Homo sapiens: one gene and its partners. The protein of the gene in region 4 purifies or fractionates together with the protein of the main gene of each other region. This does not show direct contact. Each region holds a gene or a part of one and is shown on either strand. Other genes may lie near its edges.

Region 1 (5,676 bases), on a different chromosome or scaffold from region 4:
ACCCGCCACCACGCCCAGCTAATTTTTTGTATTTTTAGTAGAGATGGGGTTCACCGTGTTAGCCAGGATGGTCTCGATCTCCTGACCTCGTGATCTGCCCGCCTCGGCCTCCCAAAGTGCTGGGATTACAGGTGTGAGACACCGCGCCTGGCCAGTCTAGGGTCTTATGTGACCAGCTGCAGAGTAAGTACCTCTAAGCTATCCATGGTCCCTGCCAGGTCTATAGACTCTACAGAGAGCACCGCTCTCATGGGTTCATGTGTACCTGTCTGGTGGCCTTGTTCCGTGTGTTTAGCCTCTGCCCAAGGCATGGATGAGTTACATGCAGTTAGTGGTGAGATCCTCATGCTGAAGCCAGCCTCTGTGCCCCAAGAAGTCATGGGCTATGATCCAAGAATCTGGGAAGTAGAGGTCTTACCCTCAGGCTTGGGTGGCTCTTTGTTGCATTTTGTGTTATTCTGCTATATGATCATTCTAGTAATTCAGTCCTTTTCAAGTTGAATTCTTTTCAGGTTGTTTTATTTTCCTTTTCCGGAGACTTTTGTACATACTGTTGTCCTGAGTAACAGTATCTCTAAGCTGAGTTACTCTGATCGGAGCTACTGAAAGGTACCTGCTTTCAGCAAATTCTGGTTTGGTTTTATTTTTTAATCAAAAAAAAAAAAAGGAGAGAAAGAAAAGAAAGACCACCCCCTATTAGAAGCAAAGGCCCTGGGAGGAGTAAGGCCTGTCACTGGGGCAGGGGCACTGTCCTCAGGGGCGGACTTTGCTCAGGGATGGCGCACAGTGACTGCGGGGGCTTAAGTCCGGTAACCCTTTGGTTTTATTTCTTTTTATTCTTGATGGGCAAAAAGCCTCCTTTAAAAAACATTATTCTTAAGAAACCTGGGAGAGAAAAAAATGCCAGTGAGAGGAAGACAAAGAAAAATTAGAGGCAGTACATTCCATATTTCAGAACTTTAGCTTTCCAGACAGTCCAATTTTGTTTTGTTTACAAATTCATCTTGCAGTACAAGGTGAAGCCAAATGGTACAAAGTCCACAGAATTGAAAAGCCATTCATATTTATCATTCAATTTTTTGATCTTCAAATGTTATGAATTCTCCAAAAAGGTAACAGGGAACAGATATCCCTTTGGTCTCACTTTATAGACAGGGAAATTACCAAAAGAAAAATCTTGGCTCTACCATCTCTACTTACAGAAGGTAAAACACTTAACAGAGACAGATTTCTGTTGGAGTTAGACTAGATTTCTTTTCACAGCCCTTAATCTCACGAGGTGAGAAGGAGTGGAAGTTGCCAAGTTGTTGGCTACCAGACCCATCAGTCTGTTTAACTCTGGCTAAAAGCAGAGAATAATGGGCAAGTTACCAAGTTTCCCCCTTCAGCTCTGGCGTGCATTCTGAAATTGTGGAAGATCCTCATGTAACACACACGCTGCAACCTGCATTTGCCACACAGTCCAGGGCATATAGAGCATTGTGATTCTTCACAGTCCGCAGAGACAAGACCAAAAATGAGGACTAAAAACTAAAGGTAGCTGAGTTTTTCAGATGGATTTTCACTCTGGCAAACTCAGTAGTTCACTCCCTCCCACCCCTCAAATCATTTAAGTAAAATGTTCTTCCAATAAACATAAATTGAGCTCTTCCTCTGTTATCCATCACATTCTGCCAGTTCTTTAAAACTGGAATATGGTACTAGGTACAGAAGGCTAAAGGGGTAGGAAAGCCCCAAATACTATAAAGATGCACTTATAAGCAGTGTGGGGTTATCACCACTGTCTACTTACTCTCCCATTCTAGGACACAGGGTGAAGAGACCACCTGGGTTCCCTCTAAAGCCCTGAACATTAGGACCACTGAGGAGGAAATATTTGTCCTTAAAAATAAATGTAGGTTCCCTGGATTGTTCTCTTTGGCTGCCACATTTGGAGCCTGAGTGGAGGCCCTTCAAATTAACACTGGTTCTGTAGGGACTGCCCAGTCAGGGTGCAATGGGATCAGACACAGGATCAAATCAGCCAGGGGCAGAAGGGCATGGTGGCCCTACGGGTAGAATGCACTGTATTGTTAGTTAACTTTCTAAATTGTTCTCTATTTAGCTTCAGCCTGAGTCAGGTCTACAATGGCCACTATTTAGAAAATAATTTAAATCAGTGAGGTAAGCACGCCGATTTGAAATATATCCAAACATCATTAAGCCTCTGGGTCATAAAACTTGGTCCCTGAACTAACAGGAGTATCTTACTCATTAATGACTAGGTTTGTTCCAAACGGCCCCTGCTGACACACATGATCCTTTTGTGTGGCACAATAAATCTGGTAATAGCAGAACAATAGCATGGCTTTTAAATAGGGTAATTTTATAATTCCTTAAGATGCTGGTTTGCTTCTTATAATGTGTTGTGTGGATTACAGTACTTAGACAAGGTTCACATTTACTTTAAAAGACTTCTATATTTTAATGCAAATCTAAGGATCATCCCCTTTCTTAGTTTATAGAAGATTCAAACTTTGTAAAACATAAATAACCTAGTACTCTAAACATCTGAAGCCCTTTGTAATACTCACTGTTTTTTCCTAATTTGAAAATAACTTATTTATATATCAAACATTAGAGCGGAGTGTAAACATGGATGTCAATCACCCTTTTAGTTTCATAAATTTGCTTTTAGCTTTCATCAACAGGCATATTTTCTTAACCTACCATGATCTCAAATGAGATAAAATATCCTTCTTCAAAAATTGTTAAGAATATTTATTAAAAAGTGCAATTCAAAAGTTAGCTGGGCAAGCACATCATTGCAAATCACAAAAAAGGGTGAAAAAACCAAAACCCCCAAATAAAACCACATGAAATACAAACAAAACAAAACAAAAAGGTTTAAAAAAAAAGTGTGCTGAGGAATGCACCCAAAAAGACAAGGAAATGAGAAGTCAAAGCTAGAACTCTATCCAGATGTTGCTGTTCTTTCCAAGTGCAAAAGAAGGTGGTGAGGAGAGACCAGCAGCCTCCACCACCGAGTTCTGGCTCTGGGTCCAAATACTACTTTAATATCAGATTATTCATCAGGGAAGTTATAAAAATATCCTATATACATGTGCACATTTGAGGCATTTTAAAAAGTCATCAGAAGGTTAAAGTTTAGTGTCTCAGCAGTTTCAGCTACTTAAACTCAATTAAAGCATCTATCATTTAAATTTGGATTGGCTCAGTTATTTGACTGCAGATGATAAAATCAAGCTGTCATCTTAGGGAAAAAAAAGAACCAAGTTTACCTACACATCCTTGCCATTACCCACAGAGTAAGAGAAGTCTGGCCCAGAGCTAACCTTTTATGTCATTACGTTTCTTAATAAATGTAATAAATGTACTAACCACTCCCAACCCCAACCCCCAGTGTAGAGTGCCCTAAGAGTAAAAGAACTGTAATGAGGACAATCTGGTATCCAAATTCATTCAAGTGTGTTACTGAGCTGTTTAGCAACAACATATGTAGCAATCACCCTCAAAACGCAAGCTGCACCTCTGGGGAGGAAGCCCTGGTACAGCAACATCAAGTCGGCAAGGATCAGGAGCTGACCTGTGGCGACATCATTAACCCTTCCCTAAGCTATGCCAATGCAGAACCCTCTTGCTCTTTTTAATTGCTCCTGTCAGTTAAAGCCACAAGTTGTTAGCACCCCCAAACCCCAGGGTGTTTCATTATTTTCCATTAGTTATTCTTACCACAAAAAAAAATGACCTGGAAAAGCAATTTTATCTTAGCATTTATCCCTGAAAAATGAAACACTGCATTTTCTGTCACAAACTGTTTCTGAGCCTTCTGTCCTCAATAATCATCAGCTCTCAGGGGATAAGAAATGCTACAGCAATGGGAAACGAAACATACCCAGAAGCTCGTATTCCTGACAGGTTTCTTTAGATGGGACAGCGGTGCACTGTCTGAGCACGGGGAAGGGTCTGAGCAGAAGAAAAGAGCTGCCAAAGATGCATGGAATGAGCAACAGCAAAACACCAGTGGAGTCTGTAAGTCCCTCCTCAGCAAACGAGGTCCCGGAAGGCAAGGCAGCAGCTAGTTCTCCTCCGAACTGGACAGGCGGCATGGGGCTTCTGTTGTCCAGCTGCAGCCAGGAGTGCAGACATCTATTTCCTCTTCCCACTGGCCCTTCCAGCGCTGGGATGGAGGAGCCATGTCAATTGTGGGGTCACACGGAGAAAAGTCAGTGCAGCAGTATGTTTCCAGGATAGGAATGTGAGTAGACGGCAATGTCACACGTGCTCAGCTTCTCCTCCTCCCCTCGGTTCATATGCAGGAGGAACTCGCACCCAGAGGCCCCGCCGTCACAGCACTAAGAAGAGGATGAGCACAACCAACAGGACTGCAAAGAGGATGGCTATGGCACACCATTGGCGCCGATCTGGAAGGCAGGACATGGGGATTAGCTCTCACAGGGACTCCACATTCCCCAAGATACAGTTATATGGAATTTATGGCACCCTTTGAAGCAGAAAAGGGGCAGAACGTGCAAATGACGGGGCCATGATCTTACACCTGCCTAGGTGCCTGATGCTCTAATGCTGCTCTGTTCTTGGCCTGCACTTCGCATGCAGTCACAACTTTGCCAGTCCCCTGAAAATGTCTCGTAATAATTACATGCTTTGTGTCTCAAGTCTTTAATTAAAATCTGCGGATCTTAGCTTTCTGCTGGTAGTTAGCATATCCTCAAAAAAGGTGTTGGCAATGGTGTTACAGATCAAAGCCTGCCTGCTTTAATCTCCCATAAAAGTCAAGTCATTTAATTAAACAATAATCACATTCTTTTCTCAATGAGCACAACGGGAGGAGGGAAAGGAGATGAAAGCTACTGCTGGTCACTTCAGGAAATATACAGCTGAAAAAGCAAGCTCCAGTGAGACAGCATGATTAATTTCACACCACACCTAGTCAAGTAAGATTACTTAACTAGTAACTGTGTTAAAGTACCTTGTACAGCTCCTCTGTAAATGAAAGTGGAATTTTTTTTCTGAAACTTTCTGCCCTACCAACAATTTGGAACAGCAGGCACAGGAAACAACTTGACTAGAGTCCATCCAAATGGCTGAGAGCAGGGAGGCCCTGTGAGACAGAAGGGCCCAGACAGGCCCTGGGGGAGCCCTGCTGCAGCTCACAATCCTGTGGTCCCAACTCTACAACAGCTGCCCCGCAGGGCTGTTGTGAGAATTAAACAACACAACCCTGTCATACACACACTGTGCAATACCCAAACCTAGGGCACAGAGGATGCTGTCAACATCAGGATGCTTCCTTAATTTGGAGACATGTAGAAAAAATGAGCAGTCCTTCCACTGATGAGTTTTGGCATCTTCCACAAAGGGCCCGACTGATAACAGAATTCACTAGCGTATGAAAATGCAGTACAACCACTAGGAATAAGAGTTCCATTTAAATAGAAATATAAAGACATATTGATTCACTAAAGTTTCTTTGAAAGCCCACTGATTTTAGCACACTATAGTTATTGAGAATCACGTTGCAAAAAGATCTCAATCTATGAAAATAAACTGCTAAACTCTCCACAAGGCAAAACATGTACTTAAAATTATTTTAAATATTATGGATATCAAAGTCTTAGAACTGGACAAGAGAACTGCCACCAAATTATAAGTAAA
Region 2 (7,030 bases), on a different chromosome or scaffold from region 4:
TCTCCCTCTCGCAGAGGGTGGCCTGCTGCCACCTTGGTGGCTCTGGGTGGGGAAGGGTGATGCTCATATGTGTTATTGGTTCCTCAGTTACCCAACCATGGCTGCTGCTCAGGGCAGACTCGGGCCAGCGAGGCCTCTTCCCAGGCCTGCCTGATAGTTGGGGGTGGGGGCAGTGTGTGTACCTGGGGCAGAGAAGCGACCTGGCCCCTGCTTGTCCCCCACTTCCTCCCCAGCTGCCATTTACTGGGTTTCTACTGTGTACCAGATGCTTGGCATCTTTTAACCCATTTGATTTCTTTGTGCATTCTGTGATTTGCCCCCATTTTACTAAGGAGGAGATGACCAAGTGTAACCAGGAAGGGCTTCAGAGACGCAGAAGTCAGGTTGGGCGTCGCTGGTAGGAGTGACTGCGGGGATGGGCGGTGGCCTGGGCCATAGCTCCCCAACTTGGGCTGTATTGCTCTGAGCCCCTTTCCAGCCCTCTGTGGGTGGGTACAGGAGGGGCCAGGCCACAGAACTGGGTGTTGCTCTGCCTGTCCGAGTGCACAAGGCCTGGTGACCTGAGATAAGAGTAGCAGTCATGAGTGTGTCAGAAGCTCGTCCAGGAGCCAGCTGTCCCAGGTGTCTGCTGGTGGCCCGCCGCTTTCCAGACATGGAGGGGACTTAACCCCGTGAGTCCATGTTGCTGCCTGGGGGGTAAGCTGTCTCCCTGCTGCTACTGCAAGGACTGTGCCATGCTGACGGCGGGTGCTCCAGAGCCAGTGCCAGCAGGCCCAGGTGGCAGCTGCAGATCTCACTGCTCACTGCGGAGCAGCAGCCTTTGCCGCCTCAGCCCACAGGGTGCCAGGTTGGTGTCCTGGGTGTTCCGGCCAGGAGAGTGAACCAGTGAGCAGCCCGGGGCCTCCATGTGGAGACTGCAGCCAGGTGGGGCGGGGCAAGGCGGGCCTCTCACCTCACTCCAGCTGCTGCTCTCCTCTGCAGCGTGGCCCGGCTTAGCCGTTGCTTCTGGGTCCGCCGATTACAGGATGTATGTGTCTTCAAACTGCCGGATTTAGGTTGTGTTCTCTCCCCTTCCTCCTCATCTGCCCCCTTTTTGCCACCGTTTCCACTGTCTGCTGCCACAGTCTCGGTCTGTCAGCCCTAGAACCTGGACTGAGTGCTGTACCTTCTCTCAGTCCCTTTTAGATCCCCAGAGGTCTTTCTGAATTGGACAAAACCTACAGACCCCACTCCCCAGAGGAGTGCTTATGGACCCCACTGTTTACATGTCAGAAGGAGGGGTTGGACTCCCTGAAAGCCCAGCCACAGACCTGAGACAAAGAGCCTCTGTCCAGATGCCTCCCCACGGAGGGAGTTTGGAGTCCCATCCAGACCGTGAGCCCCTTGAGAGGAGCCCAGCCCCGGCGCTTCTTGGTAGCACCCTCTTCTCAGGCGAACATGGCCTGGGTGACCATGGAGACCCCCACGGTGACCAGGAACTTTCAGATGCCCAGGCTGAAGCTCAGAGCCCATGCCCTGTGGCCTGTCCAAGCTCCCTGCCTTTCCCTCTCCCCAACCCAGGCCTCCCTCCCCACAACACCCCTGTCCTCCTGAGATGTGCTAAAATGGTGTTCTTAAAAAATACCCCCTGAGAGCTCATTTCTGTCTGCTAGAAAATGCCTCCCACTCATGCTTTTCTCTCTCCTCCAAATAACTTGTCAAAAAAAAGCCTTTCCCAAATTTAAAATCTTGCAAGAGATAGTACAACAAAGGTAGCCCAGTTCTTCCTCAGTGCCATCCTGGTGTGTTCAGGTTTTTTGGCAAAACCTTTGAGGAGCTGGTGGGTGGCAGGACTAGGTTAAAGGGACTGAGCAGAGGGCTCCCGACTGCTGAGCTACGAGGAAGAGGGGGCAGTGGAGAGCACACTGAGGGCTCAGTGTTGATGACATCCAGCCTCCTCGTGCCAGAGGTCCAGGTCCTCCTGGTGCAGGAGCAGAAGCTGCTCAGGATCCTGCAGAGATGGTGGCAGAGCCCAGGTAGAACCTGGCACCCTGTTGCCTCCAAGACCACCTCAGATGCTGGTTTGGCCGCCTCCCATGCCTCCTTCCCCTTTGCCAGCAGCTCAGTCCTTCAAGAGCAGGGCCTTGGCAGGTCTGTCTTAAAACACCGTGGGAGTCTGGCCATCATCCTGGCCTAGCACTGCTGTGCCCTGTCCCTGGGGTTGTGGGAAGCTGGTAGCATCCTGGCAGCCCGAGGAGAGAAGGGCTCCCCCAGAAGCATGTGCCCAGCAAGTCACAGTCTGCAGAGTCAGCCCTCTCACCAGATTTCCTGGGGCTCAGGGATTCCGTCCCCTTCTTCCCAGCCCCTTGAGAGTGTGTGGCAGCGCTGGCAGCTCTGAGCGCCTATTGATCTCTCTGCTGGCAGCCAGGTGCGCCTGCGTCCGCCTCCTCTCCTCAGCTTCTGCTGAAACGACTTCACTTTCTCATGTCTCCTCCCACCTCCCTTTCTCTCCAGAGGCCATTAACTGTTTGATGCGAGCAATCGAGATCTACACAGACATGGTAAGGGCTGCTTGCTTGTCCTGACACCCCCGGGTCCCACTGCATTGCCCCAGCCTTGCGTCCCCTCTTTCAGCACCCCCAGCACTGTTCTTATTCTGCGGCCAAACCACTTGGGGAGGGGGAAGTGGGAGCTGGGGGGATTAGGTCACCTGAGCTGGCCTGGGCTGGCTGGGTCTTCACCCAGCTCCCCACCAGCCTGACGGCCCCCTCACTCCACAGGCAGTCATGGTTTTCATTCATAGAACTTAGGTTATTGAGCTGGGCAGGGTGGCTCATGCCTGTAATCCTGGCATGTTGGGAGGCTGAGGTGGGAGGATCTTTTGGGCACAGGAGTTCGAGACCAGCCTGGGCAACATAGCAAGACCTCCTCTCTACAACAAATTAGCCTGGTGTAGTGGCATGCACCTGGGGTCCTAGTTCTTGGGAGGTTGAGGCAGGAAAATCGCTTGAGTCCAGGAAGTTGAGGCTGCAGTGAGCTGTGATCACACCACTGCACTCCAGCGTAGGCGACAAAACAAGACCCTGTCTCAAAACAAAAAAAGAAATTAGGTTACTGGAGAGTGTGTGTCCGGCACTTCCCCTTGCCCAGCCTTCCCGCAAGTGTCACATTTGATAAGCATCTTGCAGCAGGCCACAGGGATAGGCAGAGCCCACAGGAGGCTCAGCACCTGCCCTGCCCCCAGGGCGCGTTGCCAACGACAGATGCAGACCAGATGGGCAGCTGCCAACTGGAGCCAGAGTGAAGGGTCCCACCCAGGCCGGGGCTCCTGTCAGTGCTTTCTCTCTCTCTCTTTTTTTTTTTTTTTTTTTTTTTGAGACAGAGTTTCTCTCTCATCTAGGCTGGAGTTCAGTGGCGTGATCTCCACTCACTGCAACCTCTGCCTCCCAGGTTCAAGCGATTCTCGTGCCCTAGCCTCTCGAGTAGCTGGGATTACAGGCGTGTGCTACCATGCCTGGCTAATTTTTGTATTTTCAGTAGAGATGTGGTTTCACCATGTTGGCCAGGCTGGTCTCAGACTCCTGACCTCAAGTGATCCACCTGCCTTGGCCTCCCAAAGTGCTGGGATTGCAGGCATGAGCCACCGTGCCTGGCCAGCTCCTTTTTGCCTCTCCGCTTGCCCTGTCTGTCTCAGCCCTCCAACCCCAGGCAGGGACACGAGCCCTACCCCTTGCGTTCAGGGCAGTGCTGCAGGGATGACTGTGATTAGAACAATAATAGCAGCTGCCATTTATTAGGCCAGACACTGCAGGGTGGTTTAATCCACAGCCCTGTGAGGTTGGCATTATTGTCATCCCCGTTCCTTAGTGGAGGAGAGGGGCTCAGACAAGTGACATGATTTGCCCAGGGACATGTGGCTACAAGCAGGAGTCACTGAGACCCGAAACAAGGTCTGGCTGAGCCCAGGGCCTTGCCCTTTCCTACTGCCCTCAGCAAGGGGGTGGCGTTGGACCAGCCCCTGGTGCAGAGCAGTTAGGCAAGCGCCTGGACACTGGGTGGAGGCGGATGGAAGGTGCGAGGCCCCTTGGAACCTGAGGCCTCCCTGGGGAGCTCTGGGTGTGCCTGGGGGAGGCTGACAGATAGGTGTTGGCCTGGGGGCAGAGCTGGTACTCTTGGGCAGAGGTCTCAAGCCCTCCCTCCCATCCTGGTTTCTCCAGAGCCCTTTGCCAAGTGGCTCTGGACTGGTCCTTCCGCCTCTCTGGCTGTTATCAGAGGCTTCCTAAGGGCCAGGGCCTTGGCCAAGTGCTCGTGCTCACATTCTCTCTGGTGTCACACCATCTGTGCCCTCGTGGATGGGATGGAATTAGGCTAAGGCCCTGGAGTGGCTTGTCCAACATCACCCGCTCAGCCCAGCACGCATAGCCAGGCCTCTAGTGCTGGGGCCCTCCCTTCTCACTCCTGTGTTCCCCCACCTCTCGATCTTCTTCACACCTCAGGTCTTCTTCATACCTCCTCACAGGCGTGGCTGAGGGGTGGGAACTTGAAGGGTCATAGGTCAGCAGGCAGGCACGCAGGAGGTCATGAGTCGCAGGCAGCCCCTTCCTGTGTCCCCTCCAGGGCCGATTCACGATTGCGGCCAAGCACCACATCTCCATTGCTGAGATCTATGAGACAGAGTTGGTGGACATCGAGAAGGTGAGTGGCAGCAGGGCCCTGCATGGGCTGGCAGCCAGGACCAGTGCTGCTCTCTCTTCTTCCCACCAGGGGAGTCCTCTGGTGTCTGAGTGCCGAGAAGGGGGCATGGGGCGCCGGCAGAGCTTGGAGAATGGGGTCTGGCTGTGTCCCAGGCAGGCAGGGCGGAGGGTGTGGAAGCTTCACGGAGGCCTCCTCTCCCTTCCCTGCCCTCCCCTGGAACCCATCCCCCGTGTCTCCCCAGGCCATTGCCCACTACGAGCAGTCTGCAGACTACTACAAAGGCGAGGAGTCCAACAGGTAGCCCCCTTCCTGCCTGCCCCAGCCCCGCAGGGACCGCCACCACTTCCCCTCACTACTCCTCCCCACACAGCTCAGCCAACAAGTGTCTGCTGAAGGTGGCTGGTTACGCTGCGCTGCTGGAGCAGTATCAGAAGGCCATTGACATCTACGAACAGGTGGGGACAGGTGGGGATGGCGGCTTCCACCCTGCCCCCTCTCAGGGCCTGTGCCTCCTCCTAAGCCCCGGCACCTTGTTCTGGAACCACCCCTCCCCCGGCTCACCCTCTGCCTCTCCCCCGACATCCCTTGCCATGTCATCCCCCCACCCTGTCTTCAGCCTGGCTGAATGTTCTCCACCTACGACTCCATGCCGTGCCAGCACCGTCTCTCTCCCTGGCTGTGCCCCTCCCACACCCCTCGCAGAGCTTCCTGGAGGGGCCCAGAGTGAGGCTGGCTAAAGAACCCAGAGGGAGGGAATGGGAAGAAGTGCCAAGAGGCCCAGGGTGGCCGTGGGCACCCCACCCCATGGCCCGATGGTCCTCATCCACAGTGGGAGGGAGGGAGTGTCACATGGGGTCCCCCCAGCGTGCACGGAGCCCTGGGTGATGGCCGAGAAAAAGGCAGGCAGCTGGCCCCCTGGGAGAGAGGGGCGGGCGCCGCCTCTCATGTTCCCACCGCCTGCCGCCGCTCTGCCCACCGCCATGCCAGCCTCCCGTTGGTCCTGACAGCCAGGCTGCCTCCTTCCCACTGTCTCAGGCTCTCAGAAGGCCCACGAACACCTGGCTACAGCCTCCACCCCCACCCAGCCACCATCACACCCTGATCTTGGTCGCTCACGCACTGGCCGCTGACCTCTCCAAGCTGGTCCCTGGCTCCCTGCCCTTGGGGTCCTGGGTTAACAGGGCCTCACCTCGGGACATGAACCAGCTCCCAGCTGGCCCCCCAGTGCCTGGCAGTGGCTCTGGCCCTCTGGCTGCTTGCCCTGAGCTCACCAGTGCCACTTCTCCATGGCTACAGGTGGGGACCAATGCCATGGACAGCCCCCTCCTCAAGTACAGCGCCAAAGACTACTTCTTCAAGGCGGCCCTCTGCCACTTCTGCATCGACATGCTCAACGCCAAGGTAGCACACCCCACGCCCGCAGGACCACCGCACCAGGCCACCATGTGCTTATCTCCAGGCCAGGTCCCGTTGCCCCCGAAGAGGGACGTGCTCCTCCCTCACGTCTGGCCCCTGCCAGCCAGCCTTTGGATGAGAAGTGTGGTTCTCACAGCTGTGTTTCTGTGCTGGCATCACCTGCCCACCCAGCCCTGGAGGCTTTTGCGGGTCCAGCTCCTGCCTCACTTAGTGCTCTTTCCTTCATGGGTGCACTTTTTGAATCCTCACTGCACCCCATTAAAGTCAGCACCATTGTCACCGCGTCTTATGGGTGAAGATGGTGAGGCTGGGACGAGAGTCCCTTGTTTGAGGCCACATGACTAGGGACCTGCAGCCCCAGTGTTCCAGATCTTTGTGACTCCTGCTGTCGTGGCTTTAGCTGTAGCTCACACATGCCCACCTATTTTCAGGACACTTGGCAAAAGAGGGGCCAAAGAGGGCAGTGGGAGGGGGCGTGGCCAGCGGGAAGGAGCTGGAGGGTTGGCGCTAGATTTTGCTTGGCCGGAGTTTTTTTACCATTGCCTGGCAGAAGCACGGAGTCCAGGATTTCCTGGTGTCCCTGGCTCACGGCCTGGGGTGGTGGCCCCACACACCCCACACACACACACCCCACAGAGCCCTGCCCTGCTGTGGGCACCGGTGGTGGGCAAAAGCTTGGGCTTTGTCAGACCAGGTTCCCATTCCCACCCCATGTCTCACCGTGCCCTGGGCAGGTCACTGCCCCTCTCTGGATCTGTTTCCTCACTTTGAAAAGGGGGCTCACCGTCATTTGACCCTCTCAGGGTCCTCAAGAAGCACCAGCCCCAGGCCTGGCATGGAGGATGTGCTCATTTGTCCCCTGCCCCAGCTGAGCCAGGTGGGAGGAGGCAGTGGGTGCCTATCTGGGGAACCTTCCCCCTCCACCCACCTCTCCCTGCAG
Region 3 (7,030 bases), on a different chromosome or scaffold from region 4:
CATGTTGCCCAAGCTGTTCTCAAACTCCTGACCTCAAGTGATCCACCCACCTTGGCCTCCCAAAGTGTTGGGATGATGGGCGTGAGCCACGGCGCCTGGCCAAATGTATATGTTTTAACAAAGCATGTACTTGAGCACAGTGTGTGTCACTTGGCAAGTACTCAGAATTGTTGAACTAAAGAAAAATTAAGTGTAAAAGTAGTTTCAGTGTTATTTGATCATTCAGCACCCTGAACCTGGTGCCTCAACTACAAAATGAGGAACTGGAATTAGATCCTTTCAGCCGTAAACATTTGTTCAAATAAGAATAACAGTGTGTTTTAAATCACATTTTTCTTTCCCTCTTCTAGCTTGAACAGATGGATTTGGAAGTCCGAGAGATACCACCCCAAAGTCGAGGGATGTACAGCAACAGAATGAGAAGCTACAAACAAGAAATGGGAAAACTCGAAACAGATTTTGTGAGTCAAATTCGACCCTTTGTCATATTTACTTTTTTTTAAAAATGTTTCCTCCTCATGCCTCAGTCAGCATTAAATGCACAGTCTTTTGGGCTCATGTAGAAGACAAGTAACAGCTTTCATTCTTTATGAGTTAGGGATCTAAAAAATGGTTATAGAGATAGCTAATGGTGGAATTTAAGGTATGTTGGATTAATGATTCACAAATAGATCCAAATCATGCGGCCCTTTGAGTCTGAATGGTATTTACTGATACTTAACATTTATTAAAATTTTGAAACTCAGTTTCTGGCCTTTCAGGGTTTGGAGCCTTTAAGAGGCAGCCTGTACATTTGCAGCTTCTGGACTTCAGGGGCTCATAGTCTCCTGAAAGCATATCTGTATTTTTGGATGCATGTTTCCATGTGTATTTTTCCCTGGGATAAACTCCATAGACTTTATTAGATTCTTAATAGGATGTATCATACCCTTCCCCCAAAAGATAAAAGAAACCACTTTCAATTGACAGTTTATATGTGATCCTTTTTATTAATTGCCCATGAGAATATGTAGCTGTCTCTTCCTATATATCTGGCTTTCAACCGTATCTGCTTTATAGCAAATTTAAGAATATAAATGTAAAGACATAATGTTAAAGTTGTTAGTAATTAGAAATTAATAGGAGTAGAAAAGATACAGCTGAGTAATTCCACTCCTGAGTATATGTCCAAAAACAAATTGAAAGCAGAGTCTCAGAGAGAGATCTGCACATCCATATTCATAGCAGCATTTTCACAATAGCAGAGAGGTGGAATCAACCTAAGCATCCATTGTTAAATAAATGGATACACAAAATGTGGTATATCCACACAATGGAATATTATTCAGCCTTAAAAAAGAAAGGAAATTCTGTCACATGCAACAACTTGAATGAACCTCGAAGACATTATGCTATGTGAAATAAGTCACTCACAAAGACAAATACTACATAATTCCACTGATATGAGGTATCTAGAGTAGTCAGATTCATAGAAACAGAAAGTAGAATGGTAGTTACCGGGGACTTGAGGGGAGGGAGAAATGGAGAGTTGTTTCATGGGCAAAGAGTTTCAGTTTTGCCAGACTGAAACTTACAAAAATTTCTGGAGATTGGTTACTCAACAATGTGAATATATTTAACACCACTGAACCATACACTTAAAAATGGTTAAAATGGTAAATTTTATATTATGTGATTTTACCGCAATTAAAAATAAAAAGATACAGATAAAAAGTATTTTAAAAACCCTGCTAATGATAAAAGAACAAAGAAGTTAACACAATAACAACTAACTGTTCTTATAGGCTGGCACAGGAAATTAGGTTTTCAGCAAATTAATGAAATTTCATATGACTCACTTTAAAAAATAAAAAGATACAGGCGAGGAAAGATCTGAGCCTTACCTATGAGCAACAGAAGTCATGTGTTGGGTGATAAATCAGCTGTATTTCTGAATCTGGGGCCCAAATTCACAAGGAAAGTCAAGAATGTTTAAGGATCTTTCCGCCTCAGTTCTTGCCTTAGGTGTTTTGCTTTTGGAGGGTACAGCTTCTAGGCTACCGTATACCTTTCCACTGTAAGACCAACATCAATGGACCTGGTAGAAATCCCTCCTAGAGTCTGAAAATAGGGTGATTTGCAGTTATGCATGCTTGTTTTGTATGTGAATGGCTACTATCTTGATAAGTTGAGGTGGATCACATCAATAACTCTGATGCCTTTTAGACTGGGCTCCTATTAATTAAAAAAAATTAAAACTCATTATGGGCCCAAATTGATAAAATAAATATATATGCCTAAGTATGTGCCCTGTACTAGGGTAACATTTTCTCCAACTGCTTTGTGAAAGGCTAGTTTTTCTCAGTAAAAATATGAAATATAGTGAGAAAATTGGATTAAGAACTTGACAACTCAAATTTATACTGAGAAAATTCTACCTGAAGTTAAAGTTTCAATATAAATGATGAAAGCAAAATAACATGTTTATAAAGATTGTTTTAGCTTGCTTACCTCATTTTTAATGGAACTCTTTTCTGAAGATTTTTCTTATGGGTTCTAGAAAAACAAAGGGTATGAATTTGCTAGGGCTGTGACAACAAAGTACCACAGACTGGGTGGCTTAAACAACAGAAATTTGTTTTCTCACAATTCTGGAAACTGAAGTTGGAGTTCAAGGTGTTGGCAGGTGTGGTTCCTTTTGAGGCCTCTCTCCTTGATCTTTAGATGGCTTCTCCCCATGTCTTCATATGTCTTCCCTCTTCACGTTTCCATGTCCCTATTTCCTCATATAAGACATCAGTCGTATTGAATTAAGGCCCACACGAATGACATCATTGTAATGTAATCACCTCTTTGAAGACCCTATCTCTGGACAGTCACATTCTCAGTATGGGAATCAAGACTTCAGCATATGAATTTAGAAGAGACACAATTCAGTTCATAATGTTTAGGTCAGTTTTAATCTTTTATTCTTAATTTTTTTTTCAGAAATTAAATTATTTCTGTGGCTTATAAGTCAGCTAACCCAACCTTTAGTCTTTTTTGTTTCTCAAAGAGTACAATACTGGGCAAAGTCCTTTAGGTATTTGGAAATTGTATACTTGGATAAGTGTTCCTTTCTGGGCTATATTTTCTATTATAAAGAAAAATGGAACCAACAACTATGAAACTAAAAATTTATTCTCTAGGCCAGGGATGTCCAATTTTTTAGCTTACCTGGGCCACATTGGAAGAAGAATTGTCTTGGGCTACACATAAAATATCCTAACACTGATGATAGCTGATGAGCTAAAAAAAAAAATAGCAAAAAACCTCATAATATTTTAGGAAAGTTTATTAATTTGTGTTGGGCTGCAAAAAGCCATCCTGGGCTGCCTGCAGCCTGCTGGCCATGGGTTGGACTAGCTTGATATAGGCTATCATTAACAATTCATGTATTTATATGTATATTTGCTACCACAGCTTTCTTCTACCATGTTAGGAAACATCTTTCACCACCACTACTTCTATTGAATAGGGATTTACAGTTTGTAAATTACTTTAACATACATTATTTCATTTCATTGTGTGAAGAATAGACAGAGCAGGTATGGATTACTATCCTCATTTACACATGATAGAACAAAGAGGCTTAGATTAATTATAGATTTCATTCAACAAGAGTTTCTTGAGTACTATGGTGTGTCAGGCACTGTCCGAGGTGCTAGAATGCAGCAGTGGTGAACAAGATAAAGTTCTACTTGTCATATAGTTTAAATTATAGTGGGGGAAAAAATCTAGTGGGAAAGACAACAAACAAATACATACACATTATAATTTCAGGTAGAGATACATTATGTAAAGTGAATAAATGAATAGAGAGTGACCAGCAGGGTGATTGTGGCCATTTGTGCTTGGGTGTTCTCTACAGTTGAAGAGAGAGGAAGAAACGTGTGTGTGCTTGCAGAGAAAGCAGAGGAAAGATCTGTGAGGGCATTGTAGGCCGTGGTAAAGACCTTGGCTTTTACTCTGGGTTGCAGAAAGGCCACCGGAGGACTTTGAGAAGTGAACGGTCCTTCGACTCCTGTTTTACAGCTTTGTTCATTTTACCACACCATCTCACATGGTATATTTGAATAGAGTGTAGAAAATATTGACATAACTCCCTTGTTTTAATCATTATTTCTTTTATAGATCTAATCTTTTTTTTAAATGAATGGAGAATATTTAAAGATATTTGATAACTTTCGTATGCTGACATGCCATACCTAGAAATACTGAATTTCAAGAAAGGCTAGCAGAGATGGTTCTTCAGCTCTGTGTTTATTGCAGTTGAAGCCGTTCTTCTGTTCCACTTGTAATAGCAAGACTTCAGGGGAGCATTTATGCCCATGGGGAGGGGCAGAGGACAACTCAATACTGTTTTCTTTGACTCGTTTGTCCACTTGCTTTCTTTCCCCAGCCGTTCCTTCTCCTCTGCCTACCCTTTGGATGCCTGGATCCTTCAGGCTTCCTCAGTACTTACTCCCATAACCTCCTCTGTGTGTTATCATCTTTCCTGTTCCTTCCATGGCTGCGTCTATACTGACTGGTATTTGTAGCCCAGACCTCTTGGTAGTTCTGGGTTTATATTTCTTACTATTTATCCCAGAGTCTTTTAAACACACTCAGATTCAACAAGTACTGGTTACTTCAGAGTTATCGTTAATTTTTCAACCTTGTACATCCACTGGGTCACTGAGAATTAGCAGATCTACCACCTAAATATCTCTACTACTGAAAGCCTTCATGGTTTCTCTATCTGGATAATTGTAGTACTATTTCCTGATTCTGTTCTTCTGTCATTCAAAACCCTGTACACCATTCCATAATTAGCTTTTGAATACACTGATCTGTATATGTCATGCCATTACACAAAATCCCAGAGTCCTCATTGCCTGCTGAATAAAATCCAGGTCAATTTCTAGGTATTCTATCTTGTTCCATTGCTTCTTCACGTGTCTAATAATTTTATTATAGTATACTTGCTGTTATGGCCTCTATGTTGTTATAAAGCCTAGATTTTATTGTTATTTTTTAGAACAGCACAGCTCAACCTTTTTTTTCATTATCACTTCTCCAAGGATACTTTTTAGACATGTTTTTCCTAATCGTCCCACTCCTTCCCCTATTAAATTTTAATACCACTGATATTCTGTATCTGTACATCTGTTCATGTACTATGGCTCCTTGGAGGGCCACACATCTTTGTAATATCTTAAGATTCATCATACTCCCAAGAACTAATTTTTGCCTCTGTGGACATGATATTGCTCCTGTTGACAATGCATGCTTTAGACCATGAGAGGCTTTATTCAGACAGTTAGATAATTTACTGGCAAATCAGATTGGTCCTTTCAGAGTTTATTGTTAGACTTTTTAGAACACATTTTGAGTAGCCCTACTTTTATGATTTGGCCTTTCTTGGGTTCCTTTTGAATGACTGTAGTGTTTAATAAGTGCTCTCTCGCCTATGTTTGTTTGGAATTCCATCTCTCTGCCCTGGGCAACCTCTAAAATATCCATTCAATCCATTACTCCCCAGTAGCTGTTCTCTGTGAGACCTCGTGGGGTCCCATCCTCTACATATGCAAGTTCATTTTCAGCCAAAGACTTAGGGGACCACTTTCTCGATTTCTGGAGCTCCTTCTCTTTGTGGCTGCTTCTCACCATTACCCTGCTATGTTTGATGATGCATCCCAGCAGTCCTAACTCCAGTGTCTGCCTCCTAAGTTCAGTGACTTGCTGCACTCCCTGTGGGCTCCCCCTCCGTGTGCTGCAATTGGGAAAGTGCCTCCAGGCTGAGAGCCATGCGGGGCTCATTTCACATGTTTTTCTTCTTTAAGGAATTACGCTCCTCCACTGCTTGTTGTCCAACTTTGGAAAATAATTGATTCATCCATTTTGTCCGTGTTCACAGTTGTGTAGAACAGGAGGGTTTGTCTTGTACCAATTACCCCACCATGGCAGGAAGTGAAAGTTCAGTGTAGATTTAATGTTTCTTAATTCCTTAACAGATAATTTTATATATCAGAGAATGAAAAATAATAGTCTGCTGTTTACTGTTGAAACTTTCCCTCTCAAGGGTTGAGTCGAAGTATGCTAAAATGAATTGACACTGGACAGATTAATGGGAAAAACCAAACAAAATGTATTGTGTGCGTAAGTACAGGGGCCACACGCAAAGTAAGAGACTCAAAGTAGGGCCACATAACTGAAGCTTTTATACTGTAGTGCAGAAAAGCATAGAGATTTGGAGTGTGGGAACAGGTTTTCAGAGCAAGAACGGAGGAAGGCAAGCAAAGGTTGTCTTGGCTCTGCTGTTGGAGCCTGGCAGGCAGCAGCCCCCTGGAAGAATGGATGGGAGCCTGTGGAAAAGCTTCCTCTGTTACCTTTAAAAGTGCTGGGTGCGGTGGTTCATGCCTGTAATCCCAGCACTTTGGGAGGCCGAGGCAGGCGGATCACTTGAAGTCAGGAGTTCACATACCAATGTTCACATACCAGCCTGGCCAACATGGTGAAACCCCATCTCTACTAAAATTGCAAAAATTAGCCGGGCATGGTGGCGCACACTTGTAATCCCAGCTACTTGGGAGGCCGAGGCCTCCCTTGAACCCAGGAGGCCGAAGTTGCAGTGAGCTGAGATCGCACCACTAAACTCCAGCCTGGGCAACAGAGCGAGAGACTCAGTGTCAAAAAATAAAATAAAATAAAAAAGCATCAGACTTTCAGTCTCCCTTTCCTGTGAGTTCATCTTTCCAAGATCTGGGTAAAGCCAATACGGGTCAGGGTGGGGGCGCTCAGAGAAAGCCTGTTTTGCATTTGCTGTTTACTTAACTAATATTGATTTCCTCTACAAATGCAAATCTCCAGCTTTTCAGAGCCATTTTTGTGTTTGTAGCCCTTCTGAATAGCTATCTCAAAAATACACCAAAGAAGTATATTTTGGGGTGGCATATTTTGGTTTTCTTCATTACGGTGGCTTATCATAGAATATAATTTGTAGCTGACTAAATACCTGTTTAAAGGATTT
Region 4 (7,030 bases):
CAAGAGGCCCTGAAGTCCTCCAGCTGTCAGCGTAGGTACCTGTGAGGCCTTGGAGGTATGGGGACTGTTTTTCAATTGTTGGCAGATAACTGCTGTGGACGGATTAAGTAAATATGAAATTTCAAACATTATCGAGTTCAATCATTTGATTTTAAAATGTATAACTAATATCGTATACTAGTGTTAAGAAATTTCAATGCTAAATTATAGTCCTCATAATTGAAAAAACAACTTAGTATCCTAGAAAAAATTTTTTATAAATATTAAATTTGATTAATTTTAAAATAATAGGACTAGTGTTGAAACCTCAGTGTTTACATTTTTTACTGAAGTCTCCTGGGTGCTAATTATCAGAGGAGTGTGGTGCTTTGAGAAAAGCCCTGGGGGGTTGGAATGTTGGAACCCTGGCTCTTAGCAGTTTAACAGTTACACGATTCTCATTTAATCCCTCTGACTCTAGTGTTCTCATCTGTAAAATGGGACTAATAATCATAGTACCATCCTCATAGGATGCTTGTTAGGGATTAAATGAGAGGAATGCAATAATAATATGATATATGATAATACAGGTTGAACATTCCTAATCTGAAATCCAAAATGCTCCAAAATTTGAAACTTTCTTTTGAGTGCCAATATGACACTCAAAGGAATGCTCATTGGAGCATTTTGGATTTCGAATTTTCAGATTGGGGTACTCAACTAGTAGGTATTCTGCAAATATTCCAAAATCTCCCGAAATTTGAAATCCTAAACATTGCCAATCCCAAGCATTTCGGATGAGGGATACTCAGCCTGTCTAACGTGATGATATGTGAGCAGCTGGGCACACAGCAGGCCCTACATAGCAGGAGCTGAAATCTAGTGAAATCTTTCTGTGTATATAAATGAAGCCACAGATTCCTTTTATCTGTTCACCTTTCTCTAAACCAGACTGAGTGAACAGAGCCTCTCACTTCTCACTCTGGCTTGTGATGTGGCAGTGTTAGCAGAGGGGCTTCTCTCCCAGGCTTGCCCTGAGCCTCGGGCTTGTTCTCTTAGCTCTTCCACAGGTGCCAGCGTGCCGTGCAGGCCCTGCCGAGCCGGGCCCGGGCCTGCTCCGAGCAGGAGGGGCGGCTGCTTGGGAACGTGGTGGCCTCGCTGGCGCAGGCCCTGCAGGAACTCTCCACCAGCTTCCGGCACGCACAGTCAGGCTACCTCAAACGTGAGTGCTGCCCGGGCCTAGTGAAGGGATTTTGAGTAAGAAAAGCACTTTATGTTTTCTTTTTTGCCACTATTTTTTCATTTAGTCCAGTACCTTTCATTGTTAGCTTTTGAACATGCTCATACCTTGTACAGTAAAGGGAAGCCTCCTCCCCATGTGAAACCCTGGCTTGGAATGAAGGCACAGCGTGGGGTACCGACCAAGGCTGGGGGAGGGCACCAAGATAGTTCAGCATCTCAGCAAACAAAATTTGTTTTGTGTCAAGCTGCAAGAATTTGAAAATCAACCAAGCACATTTTAAAAACCTGTTGTTTTCTGGATGTTGGGGTTTGGGAGAGCTGCTCTTCAATAGGTAAAAAGCAGTTGTTATTACTGAAAGCCACATATTTGCATAACAACCAAAGTGTTTGAGAGCACCTGAGAAAACCTCCCCAGGGTCCTTGAAACACTTCCTCTGCTGGCACCACAGGTTTCACCCAGCAGACCTTTTCTTCCCAAATAGTGCAAAGCCAGATTTCAGCTCTCTTCTCATTCTAATCACCCTGTAAACTGGGTTTTTTAAAATTGCCCTTGCAATCAATAAAGTCCCCACATACTCCAAAAAACCTAGTTCTCCCTCCCTCTGACAACTGGCATATTTGTATTTTAATTTTATTATTTCCAAAATTTGATTAGGGCCATATGGAATTCATACTAGAGATGCTTCTAGAGAGAAATACTGATTTTTTAAAATGTTTTGTAACAGCAGTTAGATTAAATATTTCTGCTTCACTTAGAGATTCTCAGATGGTTGTGTCATTTTTATCTTGGCATCAAGTGAATTGTGCACATTTACACTGTGACTTTTGTCTTGAGTAATCCCAAATGCCTGCATATTGTTGTATGTTTGTAATCCTTTACTCTCCCTCCACCCCCATTGGAGATAGGCTTCTTTAAAGCGGCTAAGAATATCTCAATTTTGACTGTTGGAGTTTACTCTAGAATTCCCCCTTTTAATGGTAGAACAATACTCAGGATGGTTTACATATTCAAGTAAAATGAATTCCTATCTGTGATAGGCATGAAGAATCGAGAGGAAAGATCCCAGCATTTTTTCGACACATCAGTACCACTAATGGATGATGGAGACGATAACACTCTTTACCATCGGGTACGTGAACGGGCTGCAAAGCTGATTGCTGTGTCTGTGCACCCCATTCTGCATCTTTCACCTCCTAGACCTCGATCTTCTGTGCAGTGTCAGTGGATTGATACAGTTGACTTGTATATTCATCAGGTTGTTTTGCAGCAGGTGGAAGAACAGCCGTACTGTTTCTTCCTTTCCAAAGGCCACAGGGAGACCTTGTAATCTGCTTTCCAGAGCCTTTGGGAAAGTGGTCAACACCCTGCCTTCTTAGGAAGAGCCCAGAGAAACAGAGGGCTATCCCGGGGGTTTTGTTTATCTGCCCTTGTGGAGTTGGCAGACGTGGGCTTCTGTCTTCCCTGCTATGGCCTCAGAGCTTTAGATCCTGCTGGTTTAGGGAATTTGAATCTTTCCTGTTAGGGAAAAATGAGTGCTTACTGTGCTTTGTAGAAATATTTTCAGAATTCATTTTCTTTAAATTATTTTCATTGTCTTTAAATTATATCTAAACAAGTATACCATAGCTTTCCTGAGAGGGAAAACAATCTATCCAACACATTGTGCACTGTCTTGCTAGGGTTTTACAGAGGACCAGTTAGTTCTGGTGGAGCAGAACACACTGATGGTGGAAGAGCGGGAACGAGAGATTCGCCAGATTGTACAGTCCATTTCTGACCTGAATGAAATATTCAGGGACTTAGGGGCGATGATTGTAGAACAGGTACGTGAGCTGGCCTTCCTCGTGAATAGGTTTTCCTGCCATACTATCTGTACCTTCTTTTTCCTGTACTCCTTTCAGGGAAAAAAATTGGAGCCAATTTTCCCAACATGTGTGTGCACCTGTCCTTTATGTGTGTGTGGGTGTGTGTGTGTGTGTGTGTGTGTGTGTGTGTGTGTATATTAATATTAATCAAATATTAAATTTGATTAATTTTAAAATAATAGGACTAGTGTTGAAACCTCAGTGTTTACATTTTTTACTGAAGTCTCCTGGGTGCTAATTATCAGAGGAGTGTGGTGCTTTGAGAAAAGCCCTGGGGGGTTGGAATGTTGGAACCCTGGCTCTTAGCAGTTTAACAGTTACATGATTCTCATTTAATCCCTCTGACTCTAGTGTTCTCATCTGTAAAATGGGACTAATAATCATAGTACCATCCTCATAGGATGCTTGTTAGGGATTAAATGAGAGGAATGCAATAATAATATGATATATGATAATACAGGTTGAACATTCCTAATCTGAAATCCAAAATGCTCCAAAATTTGAAACTTTTTTTTGAGTGCCAATATGACACTCAAAGGATATATATACATAGCAATCCTAATCAGAAAATATGAAGTTCAAAATGCTCCAGAATTCAAAACTTTTTGAGTGTTAACATGATGCCACAGGTGGAAAATCCCTACACAAGACCTCATGTGACAGGTTGCAGTCAAAACTTTGTTTTATGCACAAAACTAGTAAAAATATTGTGGCCGGGCACGGTGGCTCACATCTGTAATCCCAGCACTTTGGGGGGCTGAGGCACATGGATCACCTGAGGTCAGCAGTTCGAGACCAGCGCGGTCAACATGGTGAAACCCCGTCTCTGCTAAAAATACAAAAAAATTAGCTGGGCATGGTGGCAGGTGCCTGTAACAGCTACTCGGGAGGTTGAGGCAGGAGGATCGCTTGAACCTGGGAGGTAGAGGTTGCAGTGAGCCGAGATTGCACCATTGCACTCCAGCCTGGGCAACAAGAGTGAAACTCTGTCTCAAAAAATATATATATATATATTGTATAAAATTACTTTCAAGCTATGTATATGAAACATTAATGGTATATGAAACATAAAGGTATAAGAAACATTAATGAATTTTGTGTTTAGACTTGGGTCCCATCCAGAATATCTCATTATGTGTATGCAAATATTCCAAAATCTAAAAAAAAAATCCCAAATCCAAAACACTTCTAGTCTCAAGCTTTTCAGATAAGGGATACTCAGCCTGTATATGTGTGTATTTACAAATTATATACATAGGCTACTGTCATTCCCTATAAGAATATTAATAAATCTTTTTTTGATAAATGAAGTTCTAATATTCTCTTCCCATGCCTCGAGGGTACTCATGTGAGCACCCTACTCTAGAGACCTAGTTGACTCTGACCGAGCTCAGCAATGATTCTGACGCTATAGAAGATTTCCCTTCTAATTTTGGCAGGTTATTGTGTAATGGCAATTGGAACCACTAGCGTTCAAGTAGAATTAAATTGTTGTTCACCGTTAAAATCTGATTAGGGCATTTTATTATCTTGCCAGCAGGGATTTGGGTCCTGATCCCCCTGAAACCAACTGCAGAATGGAGTGTTCAGGCTCTGGAAGATCCAGTTACATTAATTACTCCAGTGGTTCCCAGTGAACTGCTATCTCTTCTAATCCAGCATGTTTCCAATAAAAGCTCTGTTCTTCCTCATAGCCCAGTGTCCCCGTCTTCCAATTTAATTGTTTAAGAGATTAAACAATTAAACATCTTCCCCTTGAGTCCAAATTTTTAATTTTAGGTGGTAGACTGGAGTTTACCATTTCCTGCTCTGACCCATAGAGATGTGGATCCACGTTTATAGACGTGATAGTCAATTTGCAGGTCTACTTATGACAGGGGCGAGCTTACCTGGTGTTCTCTGCTTACTTGAATCCAAGTACGTAGGCAGCAAATGGGCGCAGAGCTTCTGTGCTGCTCAGAGCCTCTGTCCACTGGACCATAGATTTCTTAGGGCCCCAGGAAGTCCGAATATGGCATTTCTATGGCAGCTGAAACCAATAAGGAAACCTCAGTCTGTCAGTACTTCTTTCTCGTGAGCTAGATGTGATGGCACTAACCAGCATTCTGCCATCGAGCTCCTGACACTGCTTGAGGGTGAACTCCAGAGCCCTCCGTGTGTACCTGCAGCACACAGGGAAGGAAAACATCATCTTATGGATGATGATGTCTGTAATTTGCATATCTCATTTTTGACGTTCAGTTTTCCCAGTTGCTATTGTTGATTGTCTGTAACTGTCATTTATTACCTAGGGTACAGTCCTTGACAGAATTGACTATAACGTTGAACAGTCCTGTATCAAAACTGAAGATGGTTTGAAACAGCTTCACAAGGTAATATGTCTTTCAAGACTTGGGAATCTTAGGAACTATTTTCAAATAATCAAGAATTGGTAAGAGGGTTCTTTTCCACCATAACGATCTTCAGCATTCTTGTGTTGTCCACTCTCAATACAGTAGTGTAAAAAGGGATTCATCATTTCATTTAAAGCCAATTGTGGGGGCTGTTGCCGTTTTATTGCAGTTAATGATTCCAGGTGTATCTCACACTTAAATCCAAAATTGCTAAGAACTCCTTTTTGTGACAGTAAATTCTAAAGAGATTGGAGTTCTTTCTTTTAGAAAATATTTCATTCTTTTCTAATGCTTCTTGTTTTAGGAAATCAATTGGGCATTTGCTAAAATATGTGTTGAAAATCTGTCTGCTTGTTGCCGTTGACTTGGGCCTCTCTTGTGATACATTCCTGATGAATTGCTGATGGAGAATCATTCTGCAGAAGATAAAAATCTAATCTTCTCTTTAATTACCACAGCATATCTGTATTACCTTGAGAAAAGAGAAGTTTGTTGAAGTGAGAGTAGTAATTCTTTTATTCTGTGCTAATAAGGTAGCTGTTTCAGGGATGTTTTTATGATATTCTCTTTTAAAAAAATAGATGGAAAGCATCTTAGGAATCTTATCGGTTATAAGAAACATGCATAAACGGCTGAGACTCTCATATATAATTGGTTACGTATTTTCTTTAAAAGGAATATAACAATACTTCACAAATTAAATAATATCCATTTCCTTGTATCTTTGAGACCCAGTGGAGTTTCTAGCCATATAATGAGTGTTTTGCCAATTCACTGTTGGACTACTCTACCATTTTTCTGAAATCAGTCGCTTCCTATACCAGAGATCGCCCCATTTAATAGCAGTATTGGGTTTACAAAAAGTCAGCCCTTGCACTAGTCTAACCAGAAGCCCTGAGCTGTCTTTTCAGGGGGCTTGTTGCCATGTGTAGGTGGATATGAGACTCCAGCCTGTGGTGGGAAGAGAAGTCTGACCTTGTCTATGCAGGGTTTTTTTAAGCATTTAGATTAATTTGGTTGCCAAGCCCTGTCTATTAAAAGTGAAAACTAACTTAAGTTTCTCACTCTGTAATACCCAGGTTTTGATGTGCTGCTGAATTATGCATTGGTTTTGAAGTTTCTTAAATAAAAACTAGTGAAATATGTTTTGTAATATAACACAGATAAAAGGAAAAGCTTTCTCTGCGGGAGTGAGCAAATCTAGTGGGAACTAAAAATTTTGTTTTAGGTTCTACTTTATAAATCATTTTGAGAGGTTTTACAGTATATTATTTAGTATTGGCTTCCCTGGTGTTCTGGGTTACTTATTAGAAAAGTCAGCGTGCTCCATCTTCCCTCCAGCCACAAGGCTGTAGGCAGCACGCGCGTGCTCGGCAGTCGGCTAGTCTAAGGGTGATTGAGCGTCGGGAGCTGCTCCCCATGACCGGACTCTCGGTGCTGTCCCCGTGCCTGATGTTTCCTCCTGGTGGATGAGGGGCTCCTCCAGGTGGGCGGGCAGGCTCACTTAGGAAACAAGCCCACCGCGGGGGATGGAGCAGGAGAGATTGCCA

The links.
Region 1: the proteins of STX16 (region 4) and STX6 purify together in Homo sapiens (affinity purification with mass spectrometry; 2 studies listed by BioGRID and IntAct, with this or other methods). This does not show direct contact.
Region 2: the proteins of STX16 (region 4) and NAPA purify together in Homo sapiens (affinity purification with mass spectrometry; 4 studies listed by BioGRID and IntAct, with this or other methods). This does not show direct contact.
Region 3: the proteins of STX16 (region 4) and VTI1A purify together in Homo sapiens (affinity purification with mass spectrometry; 2 studies listed by BioGRID and IntAct, with this or other methods). This does not show direct contact.

Annotation. Positions count from the first base shown.
Region 1 is NC_000001.11:180,972,223-180,977,898, forward strand, and holds the end of STX6 (syntaxin-6), read right to left. Parts: intron 4,425-5,676; coding exon 4,348-4,424; 3' UTR 503-4,347; downstream 1-502. UniProt on the Homo sapiens protein: SNARE promoting movement of transport vesicles to target membranes. Targets endosomes to the trans-Golgi network, and may therefore function in retrograde trafficking.
Region 2 is NC_000019.10:47,491,060-47,498,089, reverse strand, and holds part of NAPA (alpha-soluble NSF attachment protein), read left to right. Parts: intron 1-2,493; coding exon 2,494-2,540; intron 2,541-2,945; exon of another isoform or gene 2,946-3,062; intron 3,063-4,488; exon of another isoform or gene 4,489-4,596; coding exon 4,597-4,674; intron 4,675-4,915; coding exon 4,916-4,971; intron 4,972-5,044; coding exon 5,045-5,129; intron 5,130-5,970; coding exon 5,971-6,075; intron 6,076-7,030. UniProt on the Homo sapiens protein: Required for vesicular transport between the endoplasmic reticulum and the Golgi apparatus. Together with GNA12 promotes CDH5 localization to plasma membrane.
Region 3 is NC_000010.11:112,464,197-112,471,226, forward strand, and holds part of VTI1A (vesicle transport through interaction with t-SNAREs homolog 1A), read left to right. Parts: intron 1-350; coding exon 351-461; intron 462-7,030. UniProt on the Homo sapiens protein: V-SNARE that mediates vesicle transport pathways through interactions with t-SNAREs on the target membrane. These interactions are proposed to mediate aspects of the specificity of vesicle trafficking and to promote fusion of the lipid bilayers.
Region 4 is NC_000020.11:58,668,253-58,675,282, forward strand, and holds part of STX16 (syntaxin-16), read left to right. Parts: intron 1-1,038; coding exon 1,039-1,201; intron 1,202-2,259; coding exon 2,260-2,351; intron 2,352-2,901; coding exon 2,902-3,045; intron 3,046-5,378; coding exon 5,379-5,459; intron 5,460-7,030. UniProt on the Homo sapiens protein: SNARE involved in vesicular transport from the late endosomes to the trans-Golgi network.